2 separate regions of the Homo sapiens genome follow, and region 2 is linked to region 1. Evidence: fine-mapped expression QTL. Tissue or cell type: whole blood. Region 1 holds a variant in brackets; the other region holds the start of a gene. All regions are shown on one strand. Distances are between the middles of the regions.

What was found. PIP is the estimated chance that this variant, and not a neighbour inherited with it, causes the effect.
Region 2: SLC35D3 starts here. The variant in region 1 is fine-mapped to the expression of SLC35D3 in whole blood (INTERVAL, PIP above 0.99).

Annotation. Positions count from the first base shown.
Region 1 is chr6:136,956,414-136,959,170 of GRCh38, forward strand. No RefSeq gene overlaps it. Among named protein-coding and RNA genes, the nearest start is that of NHEG1, 35 kb to the right of the region's middle. RefSeq lists enhancers at 145-713, 1,850-2,416 and a silencer at 878-1,172. The variant G/A (reference allele first, on the strand shown) is at 1,077.
Region 2 is chr6:136,921,182-136,923,809 of GRCh38, forward strand. SLC35D3 (solute carrier family 35 member D3) reads left to right here and starts at 1,120. Exons shown (of 2, transcript NM_001008783.3): 1 at 1,120-1,686. The coding sequence starts at 1,248. RefSeq lists an enhancer at 142-648.

The DNA of each region.
Region 1 (2,757 bases):
CACTGCAACCTCCACCTCAGCCTCTCTAGTAGCTGGGACTACAGGCATGCGCCACCATGCCCGACTAATTTTTTTTTTTTTTTTTTTGTATTTTTAGTAGAGATGGGGTTTTGCCATGTTGTCCAGGCTGGTCTTGAACTCCTGGCCTCATGTGATCCACCCGCCTTGGCCTCCCAAAGTGCTGGGATTACAAGTGTGAGCCACTATGCCCGGCCTGTATCCCATTGTTAACATATATCTTTATGAAAGCAAAAGCAAATGTTATAGTCACACAATTATAGAATAATGTCATGTATATAATTTCTATTTAAATGTAAAGTCAAAAAAGTCCTCTGAGATGGAGCCTTCCCTTATGAAATGCTCTACCCTGCTCCTGGCTGATGGCAACCAGATCATATTTCAAACTGCTAATCAAGTTGTTAATTTATAAAATCGAGTAGATGGGAAAAGGTTTCTACTTTGGCTTTGACTTTAATTATGTTAACTTTTTCCTTTCTCTCCTAAAATACAACTTGTTAGCAAATGCCACCTAAATGGTACTTCCTTTGTGACTTCGCAGCTGTCATTGTTATGCATTCATCAGGCCGGAAGTGCTCTTCTGTGTATTTTTGGAAAGCTATTCATCTGTTTTAGCTAAACAAACAGAGCTGTTTAAGCTGTTAAAATACAGTACCATAGTTATTTGTTTTTGCATCTTCGAGTTGCATGTAAATGAAAGGTTCGGGCTAATTGGTTCTAGGAATAGTATCCAAAGCAGTTCTAGAGAATTTCTCCCGGTAATTAAGTGGAATGCACTCTGGGACTCTAGTCGGCCTCACACAGAAGGGCCTCTTGGCTTTCCTTGTGGCTGTTTGTGCTTATCTCAGCCAGCTCAGTGGTTGTGGGTAGTGGGCTGTGGGCTGTGGGCTGGGGTGGTTAGGAGGGGAGGAAGAAAAAAGTTAATTACGGCCCAATGCAGGCCGACTGGAGCTCAAGGAGGAGGCACTGCAATGGAGAAAGAGGAGCTGGGGCAGGGCCGGCTGCATAGGCCTGCGACTAGTGCTGGCACACAGCCTCTGAGCCCAGAAGGGGGCCCC[G/A]CACTCCCAATGTCTGCAGCCACCGTCTTGGAATTCTGATTTATCTTTGAATACATGGTGTCTTTTAAGTGAAGTCCTAATGGGATGATGGAGCAGAAGCTGGGACCTTGGAGCCTCCCGCCACCTCCCTGCCTTTCCTGGCCCTGGCTGCAGGCTCCCCTTCCACCCCCCTGCCTTTCCTGGCCCTGGCTGCAGGCTCCCCTTCCACCCCCCCACCCACCCACCCAGTCCCAGGCTCTCCCCCACCATCCACCCACCCAGTCCCAGGCTCCCCCACCACCGCCCACCCAGCCCCAGGCTCCCTTCCCACCCACCCACCCAGTCCCAGACTCCCCCACCACCTACCCACCCACTCTCAGACTCCCCTACCACCTACCCATGCAGCCCCAGGCTCCCCTCCCACCCCCCACCCAGTCCCAGGCTCCCCCCGACCACCCAGTCCCGGGTTCCCCCACCATCCACCCACCCAGTTCCAGGTTCCCCCACTGCAACCACCCCCTGCCCCAGTGCAGGCCCTGGTGGTCTCATGCGCATGCTCACCCCCTGCCCCCCACGCCAACCCCTTGCTTCTGAGGATCTGCACTCACCTTGCAGTATTGTGCCGGTGGGCGTGTGGCATTACATAGCAAATTACAAGCACCAGGAAGGGGCAAGAGAGAAACCGTGAGGGGGAGAAAGAAAAATCCTTTCTCTTGGTTTTTGCAAAAGGGACCCCACATTGTCATTTTTCACTAAGCCCTGAAAAGTAAGTAGCAGTCAGGAGCCAATGCACTGGTTCACCACCAAAGCCGGCAACTCAAAAAGCCCAAAGGAAGGCAATCTTGCCAACAACCAGAACGCTCCTAAGAACCTGCAGGAGCTTGACATCCACAGGTGAAGTCAAAGTTTCTCCGGCCAGAGTAAGCATCTAGGCGATTAAGCAGCATCCAGGTGGGGGTGCCTGTGACACCTGGAGCCCCAGAGGGCTTGTTACAGTGCTCTTTTAGCTCTGGGCTCTAGCGCTTGGGCTTCAGCTCTTAAAAGCCATGAATAGAGTAAGGATGAACTACAGGGTGTGGGGATAGAATAAGGGACTTAGTTTTTCAGAGAAGTTAAATGATGTAGAGTTTAGACTCTGATGCCAGGTGGTCATGGTTCAAATCCCTTTCATCCATTAATACCATGACCTTGGCCAAGTCACTCAATTATTCTGAGCTGCCAGATAAGGATCTGTGGAATCATTTCTTGATGAGTCTGATATTTTGCTTCTTTCCCATCTTTTCAGTTATTAAAAATTAAATAAAGTTATTATTTAAAAAGTGGAAATACTTCAATTTAGTCATATTTCTATCTGGTTAGGTTACAATGCCTTATTTCCCTCTATTGATGTCAGTCATGCTTCTGGTGGTTGCACGACAATCCTAATATAAGTGAACATAGGTATAATCTTGGCATCGAGAATGCCATTTATATGCATGATAGGGACGGGGGCAGAGAAATTCTAGGCAGAAAAGTGTGGTCCCTGACGAAATCTCACCCTCAAGCCAAAAAGCCTGAAACCCGTGGTCCAAAGTGAGAACTTCTATCCCTGTTTTCCCATGTGAATGCTGCCTTTCCCTAAACTACCTATGGCCCACTCTGCCCCTATCCTGTGCATAGAAGACTCCAGACTCAGCCAACAGAGAGGAGAAGCAGCTGGGCG
Region 2 (2,628 bases), 35 kb before region 1:
CTCCGCCTGCCGGTTGTCCTGCTTCCGAAAGCAACCCACGACGGTCCCGCAGGGTGAGGGTTCCCTGGGATCAGTTCCCTGGGATCCGGAGAACGCCACGCGGAGTCTCCCTGCAGGGTGAGGGGCCCCGGGTTCCCGCCCCCTCCCCCTCTACTCTCCCATTCTGCGAGCGCAGCCAGCCTCCCCTCCCACGCTTCGGGAAGCGTCGCCCCCGAGCTCCTCGGTTCCTGGTGGTGGCTACTCGTGTTAGTGACTTCGTTTCTGCGCGTTTGCTTATTTTCATCTTTGCCTCAGTTCGAATGTGTCCCCGCCACCAGGCCCCGCTGCTGGGCGAGACCACTGAACCCCCTGAAAGCTTCCCCGGAGCCGCGCGCATAATCCCGGGACCCTCTCTGGAAGGCGTGCGGAGAGCGGTGCGCGTGGCCTGGCACCGGAAGGAGCCAGCTTCCGGGCTCCGAGGCACCCCCTGGACAGCGCCCCGGGCCGCGGGTTCCTCCTCCGATGCCCGGGCGTCGTCGCCGGGATCGGGAGCTTCGGGGGCCCGCCGGCACCGACGGTTTTCGCTTCCCTGGCGGGCAGCTGGACGAGGTCCCGCCGCTGCACCGGGAGGGACAGTGGGTGGAAAAAGCCGCTGCAGCGCCGGGGCGAGGGGGCTGGGGGCGCCGTCACTTGTTGCGACCAATAAACGGCGCTCGATCCTGATGCGCTGTTTCTAAAATCTTTAGCTGTGTCCCGATCCCTCCAACCCAAGCCCCTCGGCCAGGAGGAAGGGGCAAGCGAGAGCCGCTGGCTCTGTGGGGGGAGAGGGGCGCCGCGCCCCAAGAGCCCCCGTCCCGCCCTGCGGCAGCCGCCCCGGGGCGCCCAGCCGCCCGCTTCCCTCCGCAGAGCGTCTTCCCTGACGGTGAAACCGCGCGGGACACAACCCACCGCGGCTCATCACCCACTTACAAATAGCTGTCGCTAGGATTCCCGCCACTCCTCTCAGACCGGCCCCCCCGCCACCTCTGCCACTTTTCGGAGTCCCCCGCCCTCGTCACTGCCTCCCCGGAGCTGCGGGGCAGTCGGACGCAGAGCTGCCTAACCGCAAGAACGCCTGGCCGGAGCTGCCCTCTGCAGCCGAGCCGGCGCCCCCTGCCCTTCGCCGCCGCGCTGGGCGGGCGCCCCCGCCGCCCTCACTCCGCTGCTCCCGGCTCCTCGCGCGCAGGTCGCGGAGCTCCGCCACCGCTGGGTGCGGCGAGGCCGGCGCGATGCGGCAGCTGTGCCGGGGCCGCGTGCTGGGCATCTCGGTGGCCATCGCGCACGGGGTCTTCTCGGGCTCCCTCAACATCTTGCTCAAGTTCCTCATCAGCCGCTACCAGTTCTCCTTCCTGACCCTGGTGCAGTGCCTGACCAGCTCCACCGCGGCGCTGAGCCTGGAGCTGCTGCGGCGCCTCGGGCTCATCGCCGTGCCCCCCTTCGGTCTGAGCCTGGCGCGCTCCTTCGCGGGGGTCGCGGTGCTCTCCACGCTGCAGTCCAGCCTCACGCTCTGGTCCCTGCGCGGCCTCAGCCTGCCCATGTACGTGGTCTTCAAGCGCTGCCTGCCCCTGGTCACCATGCTCATCGGCGTCCTGGTGCTCAAGAACGGCGCGCCCTCGCCAGGGGTGCTGGCGGCGGTGCTCATCACCACCTGCGGCGCCGCCCTGGCAGGTGAGCGGGCCCCCGCGCCGACCCCCAGCCGACCCCACCCACCCCGCTCCGTCGGGCAGAGACCGCGGGGATCACTGAGTTCAACGACCTCACTTCCAGATGGGGAGACTGAGGCAGAGAGAGCCGGAGAGCTTTGAGAGTGGTCGCTCAGCTCGCAAAAGGGACTTCCGAGACCCAGAGAGCTCCCCAGCGCCCCACCAAGTCCCCCTGCCCCCTAATGTCCTGGCTTCCGACCCTCGCCCATGCTTCACCCGGCATCGCCCTTCCTGTCGCCCCCTCTCCTGGTCTTCCCCTGTCACCCCATTCTCCGGGAGAGGTGGGAGGGCCGCCTGAGCCTGGGAGCTGGAGTCCTCCAAGCCTGGACCAAGCCGGAAGGAGGGGGCCGTGAACTTCCTTGGGTCACGAGGGGCTGGAATGGAGGTGGGGGATGGGGGCGAAGCTGAGGGTTCCCGGGGCTACTGCGGGGTGTCTCGTGCTGCGCAGGGGGCTGCGGCCCTGGGGCAGACGACCCAGGTGCTGAGCGAGACGAGAGCCTGGGCAGGGGGAAGCTTCACTGGGGGCCAGAACAGGCGTTCTCCCCCGCGCCTGGCCCGCTCCGGGTTGCAGGCCACTGGCTGGGGCTCCCTCTCCCTTTGGTGCCCCACGGGGCAGGGGCTCCGGGGTGCAGGTACCACGCGCCCAAGTGACCTCGGTGCCAGCTCGGGGAAGCCACAGCACCTGCCCCGAGGGCATCTGCGCTCTCCGGGGCCTTTGTCTTGGACAGAGGAAGATGGAGTGACCCGGGGATATGGCGGGAAGGCGCTCTGAGCACTGAGTTTGGCTGTCGCATTTGACACGGGTGGCCGAGGGACGGCGGGCGTCTGTCACTCAGGAATCCGGTGGGCAGAGCTGGGGCGCGAACCCAGTCTCCTTTCCTACCCGACGCGTTTTCCCCGTGGGTCC